Homo sapiens: one gene and its partner. The protein of the gene in region 1 interacts with the protein of each later gene in a pairwise test. Each region holds a gene or a part of one and is shown in the gene's direction. Other genes may lie near its edges.

What was found. The genes of interacting proteins can lie anywhere in the genome.
Region 2: the proteins of BTNL9 (region 1) and EDDM3A interact in binary tests that used the Homo sapiens proteins (3 or more experiments, as listed by UniProt).

The regions. Positions count from the first base shown.
Region 1 is NC_000005.10:181,035,790-181,043,286, forward strand, and holds the start of BTNL9 (butyrophilin-like protein 9 isoform a precursor), read left to right. Parts: upstream 1-4,476; 5' UTR 4,477-4,643; intron 4,644-7,497.
Region 2 is NC_000014.9:20,741,876-20,748,892, forward strand, and holds EDDM3A (epididymal secretory protein E3-alpha precursor), read left to right. Parts: upstream 1-4,011; 5' UTR 4,012-4,117; intron 4,118-5,679; 5' UTR 5,680-5,705; coding exon 5,706-6,149; 3' UTR 6,150-6,505; downstream 6,506-7,017. UniProt on the Homo sapiens protein: Possible function in sperm maturation.

The DNA.
Region 1 (7,497 bases):
TAGAACTTCTGGGCTCTCGAACTCCTGGACACAAACAAGACCCTTGTTTCAGCTTCTCAAAGTGCTGTGATTACAGGCGTGAGCCACCACGCTCAGCTCCCCCTAGTTTATTATTATTATTATTACCACCTGTTTATGCAACTCAAACCCTGTCAAACTGCGTTTTGGCTGGCTCTCTGAAAAGGTGTAATATAAGGGCACCAACCCACTTCCCTCCTACAAATGGTCGGGACTCAGATGAGCACTGTTTTCACAGGGTCTCCTCCATAACCAATGGTCGGGACTCAGATGAGCGCTGTTCTCACGGGGTCTCCTCCATAACCAATGCTCACTCTACCTGGCGTAAGCCCGCAGCTGGAGCTCCTTATTCTACCCACTTCTGTGTGTCAGGAGAAGGTGCTGGCTACTTCTTGCAGTGAAGGAATTCCTCCGAGCTAGGGATGCTCCGTGCTGATCCCTTTGGGCAGCACCACTCAAGTCACCCTCGAAAATGGCTTGCCTTGGCGAGGTCAGGCTGTTTGGGAGTAGAGGGTGTGTGTGGCTCCTGCAGCCCCCACAATCTCAGGAGCCAAAGATGAGCACCTGTGGCTGTGAGGGCAGCAGTGGGCCTCTCCTATCTCCCAGTGCCTGTGCACGTCTCTATCTGTGTGACAAAGCACAATGGGGGGCACTGTGCCAGCTGACAGGCACAAGAATGTCAGTGTGAGCTCCCTGGAGAACGGAACAGGAGAAAATGAAAATGCAGTAAGGAAGCTCAAGGGCCATGTTGTGGGCTGCCGGGGAAGGTGGATGGGGGATCGTCAGAAAAGGAGGAATTCACTACTTGCGAGGCTGGCATGACTTTGCTTCTATCTCCACTGGTAGCCCACGCTGGGCGTGAGAATAGCCTTTGCCCTGGGGATGAGGATTCTCCCATTAGCCCCTCCAGAATTCCCTCAGACGACCTCATGGTGAGGGCTGCTGTGCACCACGGAAGCTATATAATGGGGCATGTTCTCCGCTGTCCAAGTGATGGCTCCATGCTGGCCTGGCTAGCCCCTAGCCTTTCCTACCCCACACGTGCCAATCACCTCCCTCCACGTGATGGCCGCTGCCATCACAGGGGCTGCAGCAGGGAGGCCTGGCTGGGGCTGCATACTTCACGGAGCCAGTAAGAGCTCTGCCCCTTCTGAGATGGGGCGGGAGCTCCCCGGGTACCGCTGCAGTCACCCAAACTGTGACTGCAGACCCAGGCCTCCTGCTGTACAGATCAGGCAGGATCCCAACCCTCCTGTGTGGGTCTACAGCCACCCAAACTGCAGCTGTGGATCCAAGCCTCCCTGAGCTCCTGGGTGGGAGCCAGGGGCAGGCAGGATCTGCCCTTCTGCGTGCAGCTGCAGCCACCCAACCCACAGCTGCAGACCTCAGCCTCCTGCTCCACGGAGGAGGCAGGAGCCAGGACAAGCAGGAGCCCTGCCCCTTCCGAATTGATGGGGCAGGAGCTCCCCGGGTGCAGCTTCGGCCACCCTCCCAGGAGCAGGACCCCGGCATCTGTGCATTCTGCACCTCCAGGGCCTGGGAAGAACCACCCTGTACCCAGCCCCCCAACCCCCATCCCTGCAGGCTCAGGGCTGTCTGCTTCCCACTGCCTGGCCTCTCTCTGCTCCCACTCTCAGAGCGGGGTTGGGGCCTAGCCAGGGACCATAAATGGCAGTGGGAGGCAGACAGAGTCCCTGGAGGGAGAAGGCGGGTCCCCAGTAAGGCCCCGCCTTCAGGCCAGGGAGGGCCTGAAGGCCTGGCTGCCAGTCCCTCTGACTGGAGTGGGGACTTGTGGTGTCTCCCTCTGGCTGCCCATGGACCAATCAGCATGCACTTCCTCCCCTCTGAGGTGCATAAAAGCCTGAGGCTCAGCCAGAGCAGGGCAGAGGATGGAGAAACGATGGGATGGCCAGCTGCAGAGAGGAGCTACCCTCTCTGCTGAGAGCTTCAGAGACCTGCAGAGGTGTTCAGAACAACTTGCCTGTGGAGAGGAGCCACTCTCTCCAGGGACTTCTGTCTGCTGAGAGCAGCAGGTGGCAGGAGGACCAGTGGGCAGAGAGGAGCTACCCTCTCAAGGGCCTTCTCTGCTGAGAGCTGAACACTCAGTGGGAGGGGAGGACTTACCTACAGAGAGGAGCTCACTGCAGATCACCTCTGAGCTGTTCTAGCATTCAATAAAGCTTCTCTGCATCTTCTTCACCCTTCACTTGTCTGTGTACCTCATGACCTCATTCTTCCTGGAGGCAGGACAAGAACTCAGGTGCCACAGAGGTTTCTGGGAAGAAAATTGACACCCAAAAATCCCACACAAGGACAGATGAGGGTCCATTCTCTCCAGTGGCACCTATAGTCCGCCAGGGGTTCAGCACCTACCTTCATTTTGGATCTGAGCCTTTATGCATTTACTGGGTCTTGGAATGGGAGGTTCGGCTGGCAGGGACAGCCGCTGTCTACATCTTTCCTACTGCATGATGCGCCTGATATGCAGGCGGTGGTGGCAGGTGGGGTCCCCCTCCCACATCCCACCAGGGCTGTGTCTAGGAGCCACAGAAGTGGACTCTGCCCATTTCTCTCTCTCTTTGCATTTCTGCTGTGACAATCTCACCTCTCCCCAGGCAGCATGGAGGAATCCAACCTAAGGGCAATGAAAAGTTTAGGCCATGTTCTCGTTTTCGAGCAGCCCCTCTCTACAAGTGCAATTTTCCTTCTCTTTCACTTCCCTATGTGGCATGCAAGGGCCTCTGCAATGTGGTCCCATCCACTTCTGTTCAACCTTCCCTTCCACTAGTGAGCCACACACTGGTCTGGCTAACCCCTAGCCTTTTCCTACCTCCCACATGCTAATCACCTCCCTCCACGAAGAATGTCTGTCCTCGCAGGCTCTGTCCTCCCGGGCTGCCCATGGCTTCCCTGATCCTACTGTTTATGCAGCATCCATCTTAAGTATACCCTGTCCTTGAGCCCTCCTCTGTCTCCCCAGGCCCGGGGAACTGCACCCACTGTTTGAGCTCACTGTTCAGCCCCTTTTGCTGTCCTAGGGACATCTGTTCACATTAATAAGCCTGGGTGCCCAGTCTCACCAGCCTGTCTGAGCACAGACAGTCACCTCCAGGTCCATGCCTGAAGCTTGCTGGCTCCCGTCTCCCACCCATGTAGCGCCCTGTCACCTGCAGAGGCCCCTCTACAAACACAGGCACTTCTGGGAGTCCCTGGGGTGTGCTACTGAGGCAGAAAATTTAAAAATACATATGCCTTCATTCACTCCAAGAAAAGTAACAGGCAAGGCAAGGGTTAAAAAGTAAAGGACAAGTTTTCCTCTGCCTATAGCAAGCCCACTGCAAGGACAGTTATAACAGTGTCCAGAAAGCCAAGGCCAAAGGAATGGGCTCCAGATACCCGCCGCCCCACTTCCAGAGCAAGGTTGAAGGAAAAAGAGAGAAAGACAAATTCTTTTACTGTTACTGTTTTCCCAGGCTTCTTAAGCATGATTGTGTTTTACAAATGTCTGTACTTAGCCAGTTCTTGTTTTTCTTTCAATGCAGCTACAAAGTCACCCGCTGTGCAAGGCCACAAGTTATGCTATGCTATAGATTATGTGACCTATCATGATTAGCTGCTTTTGTTTTATTTATTGTAAGTCCACTTACAAAAACCCCGCTCTGTCTTTGTTTAATGCTCAGCTTTTTGGATGTGAGTCCACTGAGCCGGTGTGTACCTAAAATAAACAATCCTCCTGTTCTTCACATCGGTCTCTCCGGTCCTCAGTTTCCCACAACACTGCATGTGCTTGAGCTGCTCGTGCCTCAGCTCTGGCCTGTTCCCTGGAGGGGACGTCAGTGTGGGCTGCAGCTGGGTGGCTGGTGCCTCAGTCCGCTAATGCCCAAGTTGCACCATGGCCTACAGTAAGATGGGGTGGGCTGGGCTGGGGTAGTGCTTGCTGCTTCTTTTCTGACCTCTTCTCCACTAGAGAAATCCCAATCCAGCACCCTCCTGCATTTCTAAGTTGCACGTGAACAGGTTTTGCAGGTTGCCTCACGACAATGCCCCCAGGATTTGTTCCTTACTGACCTTGTCCTGAGGAGAAGGTTATGGTGGGTTAAAAATTGGTCATCAGCCCCTTCCTCGTGGTTAGTTAGTGGAGACTGCAGTCTACTCTCTTTCACTGTTCGGGGACTGCTACCCTGCCTCCTTGGAGTCCGAGCTTCACTGGCACAAAGACCCTGAACCCAGCTGGAGCGTTTTCTCCTCACTTTGAGCCTCTGCAGCTGTCGCTCTCTACAAAGCTCTCAGATACCTTTCCCCTCCTTCTGTGACCCTGGAGAGATATTTTACATGGGAATTCAAGATTTTTCTCAGAGACAGGATGTGACGACTTCCTTGTTTTGTTCTATCCATCTTGGTTTCCATAGCCAAGGGCAGAGCAAACGGCATATATCTTAGGGTGGAAGATGGATAAATAATTCTGTCACACGTGCCCTGGCCTCTGGAGCTCAGCTGCCAGTCCACGTCTAGGGAATCTTAGCATCTGGGACCAAGACACTTTACAGCAATCATCACCCTTTGCAGAGGAGGTGAGCTCACCAGGACTCATCTGCCATTTCAGACCTTTTGCTGCTACCTGCCAGGTAAGTGGCTCATTCTCAACAGCTGCCTACACCTCCATCTTTCAGAAACGGCAATCAGAAAATGAAGGTGGGAGGCTTTGGGAAGGCGTACAATTAGTGGCACCATTTTATTATCCGAGCTTGGCCGCAGCATGGGATGTTTCGAGTGTGGCCAAGAGGAGATGTCCACGCCCGTTTAGGTGGGCCGCATCTCAGGAGGCAGGATCCTGATACATCCCATTGCCCCCACCAGACGAAAAAGATTTCAAGCCTCATTGCGGTTCCCTTCTTGGGGCAGTCCATCTTCCTTAGAGACTAAGAGGGTGGAAATCCTCTTGTGGACCTATCGAAATCAAACCAGCGCAGGCAGTGAGCACTAGCTGGGGTCTGCCGGGGGGAAGGGCATTGCAGGGGGTGTCGGGGAGGCCCGTGGGAGAGGGCCAAGGCCCCACTGACACCTGCGGACTTGCAGCTTGGGGAGTGGAGGACAGGAGACAGGCAAAATTCACCAGTTACACAGCTTACAGAAGTAGCAAAGCAAAGACTATACTTCAGGGATAATTTCTGTACTTTGTTACTAGAGAAGTTTTCCACTCTGGGACCCCACAGTCTCCGCAGACATATGCAGAGCAAAAAATACTTCCTGTGTTTGGGAGAGCAAGAGACATGGCATTTATTAATAACATGGATTTTCCTGCCAGGTTTCATAACGTGGTCATTTAAGTGTGAAATGTAGTCTTAAAATTATGTTAGAGAATCCCCAAGGTTTTGCTCTGCCCCCATGGAAACACTGGGATCGCTCAGGACGCCAACAGCTGCATAGCAGGCGAGGGACTCCTGTGGGAGGACGTGGCCTGTGGACACTGCCAGGTTCGGAGATGTCCTTGGGAGATTTACTATTTGTCAGGAAGATAGTGTTAAGTTCAGGCAAATAATTATATGTGTGGACAGAATCTGAAATTCACCAATAGAGTAAGTAAGAGTGAGAGATTGTGAATGTGTAATACAAATGGAAAAGCAGGTTTTATTTTGTTAAGTTATTCACCAGGGAACCAACTGAAGTTCCTTCTAATCCTCTTTTTCTCCATTCTTGCTTTGCTGAAAGTTGGAGAAAAGGACATGTGTAGAGAAAATGGGATGCTTCAGGGTGGCTCAGAGGACACCAATCCATAGTGATTCGCCTGAGTTTGTCAGGTGGAAGCAGTGATTTTTAAGAGTCACTGATTAAAAACAAACAGTCCTAAGTGTATTAGGGAGATGCCATTTATTTGTGAATCAAAAACTTTTCTCAGTCTCTTAAATTATGGTTTTCCTGTAATAAGAATGATTTATATTTTTAGTGAAAAGTTGTTTTCCTTTCAAATACAGACTTTTTAAAAAGACTTAGTTTGAGTAAGTACCTTTTCATTTGATGCTTTTCTTGTGCCTAACCTTAGGAAATCCAGAATAGTATTTGACAGAAATTATGTTTTCAACTTGCCTTTGACATCTGTCCCACTGCATTTTGCTTTAAAATTCTTTATTTAACAATAAATTATCTAAAAAAATAACAGTAGCAAAGCAAAAAGTACTCATCTTTAAAGACAGACTCGACGGAGGGACCGGAAATCAGAAAAACATCAGGGTTGTTTAGGAATTGCAGGTGCAGGAGGAGAGAACAGGAGTGGGGCGGGCTGGGGGCAATGAGAGAGCAAGAAGAAAAGAAAAATAAAAAGAGAAGGAGAAGAAAGAAATGGGCTTTTGCTGGGTGCAGGCAGTGACATTTCTCAGGACCCCTTATTTCTCCCTGTGCCTTCCGGAGGGAGCAGCCCAAGGCTCCTGGGAGGACAAGCAGCACGTGCCCGCCGGCAGAGCTCAGCTCCAGCTGGAGGACCCCTTTGTGGTCCTTGCGCACACTGGGTTTTCCTTCTTCCCCAAATATCCGACGCGTCCAGTCCCTTACTCCTTCCCCAGGCAAAACCTCCTCACCAGGAACAACCTGAAATCAATTTACACTGTAATCAAAATAGCAGAGGGTGGAAAGTGTTTCCTTCGAGGAGGGGACTTACGCTTCAAGTAAGGATTGAGCACCCTGGATCCTTAACTGAAGAGTGAGGTCAGAAAGGGCGGACGCACAGCAGCAAACGGGGAGGAGGGTGCTGTCCAGGAGCCGCTGACTTTTCCCTTCAGGAAGCTGCCAGACCATCTCTCTCTGCTAAAGGCTTTCAAGATGATACCCTTGAGTGTTGGGAGCAAAGGGACCAGGTACCTGTTCCTCCTGGCTCAGAAGATGCTCTTGACAAAGTCTTAGGGAGACCTCAGCTTTAAGTTGTTTTATCTGGCAGCGGGATTTTAAATTTTGTATTCATTAGTTGGCTGGTTGGCTGGTTTTGTGGCTGGCACCGTGTGAGCCGGTCGCTTCTTCAGTGCCTCTGTGTGATGGCAGGTTAGGGTGAGTGTTTGGTCTGTGGCCAGCTGGTTCCTGAGACGGTCATGGTTTTGGGTAACAGGAGTGACGGAAGGGTGTACCCAGACACACGACGTAGCTGGTGAGGAATCTGAATTCGAGAAGTGCAGAGCGAGGCTCTGGAACCAGACAGTGGGTGGAACCCCACCCCACCACTCACCCACTGTGTGCAGGAGCAAGTCACTCAGCTCCTGGGCCTCCGTTTCCTTATCTATAATTTGGACCTATTAGTAATAATAATAATAAAAATAATAATACTGAGGTATAGATAAGTGTTTGATAGATAGGAAGTACCCAATGCATGTTAGTTTTATTACTGTCAGCACGTGTGTGTGTGTGTATGTGTCTGTGTGTGTGCATCTGTGTGTGTGTCTATGTGTGTGTCTGTGTGTGTGTGCATGGGTGTGTCTGTGTGTGTGTGCATGTGTG
Region 2 (7,017 bases), on another chromosome or scaffold:
CACACACTTGTTCAAATTGTCTTCTGAAACTATGAAAGTGAAGGCAGTTTTAGAGGAGACCCTAAAAGAACCATTCCTGCAACCCCTAGATTTCCAACTGTGACAGACTTGCCTAAAGCGTCACTTCTTACATATGCCTGAATACCTTATCGATTTCTTGGGACATCATCTCTTGACTGAACTGAATGCAAATATTACCTTTTCCCCAGGATGGGTGAATATTACAGTGTCCCCAGATCAAGCCCGTACCTTGCAAGCTGCATTGTTGCAGCAACTGGCTCAGAATTTCTCTCTCATCCCTGAAGAATTCCTACAAGAGGTGGGTACTGATTCCCATCCTGGGCAGATGGGAAACCAGATAGTGCTAAGTCTGCAGTCCCAGGACCAGTCAAAGTATATGAGGGAACCACACTGCTGAGTCTTAAACAATACCACCTGAGAGAAGAGGTATGAGGAAGTATTCAGTTTTTGTTGTCTGATTTCCTCCAGTCTTTGTACTCAACAGACCTTGCTGGTCCTCGCGTAAGAAATCTTATCTGGACTTCTCTTAACTGACTAAAGCAGAGCATTGTGAAAATACAGCCACCATTATCTCTCTCCAAGGGAATCCTCGTGTAACCACGATAGGTGTGTGGCCTGATGCCTACATTCATCTTCTCATCTGTGTCTCAAGGAGTATGGGGTTAGGGTTTTGGGTTTTTTTTTAGTTTTTGTTATGTTTGTTTTGTTTTGTTTTTGAGAGACAGGGTCTCACTCAGTCACCCAGGCTGGTGCTATCATAGCTCAGTCCAGCCTTAAACTTCTAAGCTCAAGCAATCTTCCTGCCTCCGTTTCCCAAGTAGCTGAGGTTACAGGCACGTGCTACCACTACTGGCCTTAAAAATTTTTCTTTTTTTTTTTTGGTAGAGTCAGGTTATCATTATGTTGACCAGGCTGGTTTTCAACTCCTGGCCTCAAGTGATCCTCCCACCTCAGCCTCCTAAGTAGCTGGGACTACAGGCATGTGCCACCACACCCAACTAATTGTTTTAATTTTCTGTAGAGATAGGGTTTCTCCCTGTGTTGCCCAGGCTGGTCTCAAACTCGTGAGCTCAAGTGATCCTCCCACTTTGACCTTCTCAAGTGTTGGGATTACAGGTGTGAGCCACTATGCCCAGCCCCTACATTTCAATATGGGTGAGTGAAAATAGAGATGTAATTTTCTGCACTGCACTACTGCATTGATCCTATGAATTCCATCCATGGAGCCCTTGGAAGTCCGTGGATCACAGATTAAGACACCTATAGACGTTGTCATCCCCTGAATGAGGAACCTAAGTCACTTTTATGGTTTTGTGAAACAGTAGTTCACAAACATTTAAGAATTGAATAGTGGCTAACAAAAGAAATATTGGCTTGGTGCGGTGGCTCACGCTTTTAATCCCAGCACTTTGAGAGGCCAAGGCGGGTGGATCACCTGAGGTCAGGAGTTTGAGATCAGTCTGGCCAACATGGCAAAACCCTGTTTCTACTAAAAATACAAAAATTACCCGGATGTGTTGGTGCGCACCTGTACTCCCAGCTACGCAGAAGGCTGAGGCAAGAGAATCACTTGAACCCAGGAGGCAGAGGTTCCAGTGAGCTGAGATCATGCCTGGACGACAAGAGTGAAACTCCATTCCAAAAATAATAATAATAATAATAAAAGGACATATCAAGGAATTAACAGAAAATAATTAAAATCAAAGACAATAAAGGATGAACATAATTTTCAAGTGATTTAAAATTTATATTTAAAGGGGAATACCTCCTTAAAAACCGAAATCAAAAGTCACTGCCCAAGGAGCTTCTGTTACACAAGCTGGTAGACAACCCTAGGAAGTAGACCCATTACGTAGTTTCCAGAAATACTGGTTGGGTTACCTTCCTGGGCTGCATTCATAGTGGCTAATTTCTGTAAATATAACAATATGCTTTTCCCCAGTTTAGTTTAGATGGCCTCCTAATTGGGTTTATATCCAAAAAGCTTTAGGACTTTGGGCTTAGCTCATAGGAGAGTTCATGGATGTATGCTTGGAGTCCATGATTTTTTTTCCATATTAAAAGTGGAATATCAAGTATTTGAGAAACACTGGCTCATACATTGGCTCAGGTGGCTTCTCTCTCCCACCTCTCTACATTCATTGAGTCACTACTTGAATTTGTCTTCAATAGACAATGCACATTTGTTGGAAAGAGCTCTGGATGTGTGGGCACATGACAAAAAACTGATTTTCCCTCAGAATCGCCTCTCAAATCATCCAAATTCAGAGGCCCAGAATTGTTCCTGTTTTGCTCTCCCCTGTCCCCCAAAGACCTAGAGAGTAGAAGGATGCACAGAACCTGCTCTAAGACTATCTCCCGTCCATCCAGTCTATCAGCACATGATTTTCTATTACTCAAGGACTGCTTCACAGGAGTGGGGGTTTGAAGATAAGTTCTGGATATAAACTGAACCTTCTGTCATTCCAACAATAAGGTGGCCCAGTGAGAAAATCAACTAAGGTGGTTTGGCTAGGAGCAGCCTTTGGAAGTGTTGTTAGAAAAGATTTGCAAGAGTCTTACTTTATTCATAAATCGTAACTTTGACTAGTGTTGATGAACCAGTATTGGTCACATTTGCCAATTTGTGGGGAGTTGGCATGGAAAATATGGTGGAAAATTCCGGCTGTGATGTTAAAGGTAACCATTGAACACTTGCACAAACTCAGTTGAAGAAGTTGTGGTCTTGTCAGTTTGAGCTGAGTTCAGGACTGAATCTTGAGGTCCTGAAAAACAACTTAGCCAGCACCTTGTGACCTATACTTCACAGTCAGATGTTACGTATAGTAGCATTGTAGAAACTATGGCCAGGCTATGTGACATTTTAATAGTAAGCAGTACAGTGTCACCAAACAGCTAAAGGTTATAATTAAAAAACTGAGTAGAGAAATTTCAGATACTGGCTACCTAATCATTCATAGCTATTTGGCCACTGTGTTCACTAGATATTCTTTCACCTCTCAATGAAGGTCTCACAATTCACAACATTAAAAGTGATTTTCTGGCCTGACCAAGTGGCTCATGCCTGTAATCCCAGCACTTTTAGAGGCTGATGTGTTGAGGCTTAGCTAGGCTCAGGAGTTCAAGACCAACCTGGCCAACATGGTGAAACCCTGTCTCTACAAAAATTAATACAAAAAACTAGCCAGGCATGGTGTTGCATGCCTATAGTCCCAGCTACTCAAGAGGCTGAGGTGGGAGGATTGCTTGAGCCTGGCAGGTTGAGACTGCAGGGAGCAGTGTTTGTGCGACTGCACTCCAGCCTGGGCGACAGAGCAAGACCCTGTCAAAAAAAAAAAAAAGGCAAAAGACCAGGCACAGCGAGTCACACCTGTAATCCCAGCACTTTGGGAGGCTGAGGCAGGCAGATCATGAGGTCAGGAGATCGAGACCATCCTGGCTAACACGGTGAAACCCCGTCTCTACTAAAAATACAAAAAATTAGCTGGGCGTGGTGACAGGCGCCTATAGTCCCAGCTACTCAGGAGGTTGAGGCAAGAGAATGGGGTGAACCCGGGAGGCGGAGCTTGCAGTGAGCCGAGATCTCGCCACTGCACTCCAGCCTGGGCAACAGAGCGAGACTCCATCTCAAAAAAAAAAAAAAGGTGGCTTTCCTCAGTGAAGTTCCCATGTAACATAGCATAACCCTCCAGGGACTTCCCCAGAAGTTTGTTAGAATTGAGAGCAGAGCTAAGTCTCTGGTTGTCTCCTGATAGCACCAGATAACCCTTTTCTGGGGTCACCTAGGGTCTTGCAATCATTTTGTACCCAGGGCTCAGCCTTTGATGTTTGTAGCCTTTGCTCGAGGCTACTGTTTGAGTGAGCCCAAGTGTTCCAGATGAAACGATACAGGGACAAGTTCACATAATAAGGCTGTTCCCCATCACCACCTCGGCTACCAATCAGCTGGAGCCCTGCAGCTCCCCCTACTATTCCTTTCTCCACTGCTGTAGATTTCCAGGGCTCTGAGAAAAGGAGGAGGACGCAGACTCTGCTCTTCAGATCCACATGCTGATCCCCACTACAATCAGTGACCTGAACTCAGAGTCCAAGTAGGGTAAGAAGGGCTCTGCTGAGGTTGCTCGGGGGACAGCCAGGAACACTGGAAGGAGGCTGATTGAACTTTTAGATAGCAAACAATGGAGAAGGATCCAAATCATGGAAAACAAAGGTCTGAATTCTGGTTAGCCTCAGTCCCACTGATACAGGCTTTTCCCTGCCCCTCCCTTCCTTCACCGCCAGTCCTCCTAAGCACAGTGCATTAAAGCTGCTTGCATCCTACTCTTCTATCTTGTGTAGGCCTTTATCACCAGGACAGGGTTCCACAGATGAGGAACCCTGTGCCTGATGTGGGCATTTGACATCTTTAGAAGTGCTCTCACATGCTTGCATCTCATTAGACTCTTGCAGGTCTGTAGGGAGCTGTGATTAGGCCTATCTGAGGACACCGATACTCAGAGCTATGAATCAGGCTAGAGGTTCAGTAGGGCCAGGAATACTCCTCATGGCAAATGAGGACAGATAGCTGGTAAAGAGATAACTTTTTCAAACGACCATACATCCTATGCTGTGACCACAGTAGCTCTGCGGGGGACTGTTTTAGTTTTGGTGCCTGATTGATTACAGCAACAGTTCTAAACTGATGTCCTTTTATGATGGCATTGTCAATAAGCTCTAACAAATGAAGATCATTTGTAATAGCAGTAATTAGGGAAATGGCCTCTGAGAAGGGATGCCGATAGTTAATAATGATCACATGTTTCACCCAGACTTTGGGGAAAGTGTTATAAGGAAGTCAAGGTTGGAAAAACATCATTTTTCAGAGAAGTGCAATTGCAGCCTGGGCTGTGGTTTCCAGAATCAATGCCTTCTGCCTAGGAACCACCTCCCAAGTAGTTACTCATCTTCTACATTCCCTTAAAATGCAACAATCTTTTCCACTTTGCAGACAATACGCTTAAAATGTCATTTTTCTATTGGACACATGATCTCCTGAGAGCTTATTTGGTAAAAGAGAGCTCGATAGTGATTGGCTCCTCAAATTGGGTAGAAGACAGGGTAGACAGGAGATATTTGAAATTCTCAAAAGGTACTTTATCTATATTTTCCAAATTTGTGTTAGCTCTCACAGGCTAAAGCATATTTTTAGTTCTTAGAAACTGTATTCTTTTTTTTTTTTTTTTTTGAGACGGAGTTTTGCTTTTGTCACCCAGGCCGGAGTGCAGAGGTGTGATGTCGGCTCACCGCAACCTCCGCCTCCCAGGTTCAAGCGATTCTCCTGCCTCAGCCTCTCGAGTAGCTGGGTCTACAGCCACCATGTCCAGCTACTTTTTGTATTTTAGTAGAGATGGGGTTTCACCATGTTGGCCACGGTGTTTCTCGAACTCCTGACCTCAGGTGATACACCCACCTTGGCCTCCCAAACTGCTGGGATTACGGGTATAAGCCACTGTGCCCAGCCCAGAAACTGTATTCTTTAATGAGAATCATCATCTTCTAATATGGAACCAAATAGCAATATAGTGCCCAAGTACCTGCTTGGCAGGGAAAGGAATTTTAAGGTGGAGCTCAGCTCTCTGAGTATAGTCTGGTTAATGCTTTTCTTTCTCTTCCCTGTAGACACGCAGGTGGACGTGGTGACTGAGATGACATCCTCTCTAAAGATTTGGGGCATACTCTTGGCCCTGCTTTGCATCCTTTGCAGGCTGTGTGTATACAGTAACAACATTTACTGGAGAGAATTCATAAAACTTCATTACTTAAGTCCAAGTCGAGAATTCAAAGAGTACAAATGTGATGTCCTCATGAGAGAAAAAGAGGCTCTGAAAGGCAAGAGCTTTCATATGTTCATCTATAGCTTATGGTTCAAAATTCAGCGTGCATGCATCAATGAGAAGGGGAGCGACCGATATAGAAATGCATATGTATGGGCCCCAGGTGCCCTCAAAGTACTCGAGTGTCACTGGGAGAAGTACAACAATAGGTACACAGAGAGCAGAAGCTTCAGCTACATTGAATTCCATTGTGGCGTAGATGGATATGTTGATAACATAGAAGACCTGAGGATTATAGAACCTATCAGCAACTAGAAAGTCTATGCACATCCTCAGATATTGGTAGAGTATTCAGTGCTTCCAAAGTGGTGGGCCCTGCCTCCATCAATAGCCCCTGCCACTCCCCGCTTACATTTATGTGTCAGTGTTTTCCAACTACTTAGAGTTTATGTACCTCGTGATTTCTTGATACCAAATCTTTGTGTGGTTTCTGTATCTGTAATACAATTTTGTCCTAATTTGCCTAATTTACACCCACATTTTTTCCAAGATTCAGCTCATATGGCATCTGTCCTCGACTAACCTAAGACTTTCCTGATATTGACTCTCTTTATACCTACCCAAGCTGAACGACCCTCCTTTTCTTAAATAAAATATATTATTCTAACGTATGTGACGCTTATATATGTTATGTGTGCAGAGTATGTATCGTGTGATTGGTATGGGTATCGGTGATCTAGGCTATTTTTGCCTATGGCTGTGCAAGGGGTTTAATGTGCACTTTATGTGTCTGTGTCTAATGTATGTGATATGTTTATGTATATCATGTGGATATAAATGATTGTGTGCTAAACTGGAGACAAGTAGTGATGTAAGCACTCATCGTGGTAGCAATTTGAAATAATCAAAAGGGTCAAAATCCAGTTTTAAGGAGTGGGCTGGGCACTGTGACTCATGCCCATAATTTCAGCACTTTGGGAGGCTGAAACAGGTGGGTCACCTGAGGTCAGGAGTTTGAGACCAGCCTGGCCAACATGGTAAGGCCCTGTCTCTACTAAAAGTACAAAAATTTGCCAGGCTTGGTGGCACATACCTGTAGTTCTAGCTATGGGAGGCTGAGGCAGGAGAATCTCCTGAACCTGGGAGGCAGAAGTTGCAGTGAGCCGAGATCACGCCACTGCAC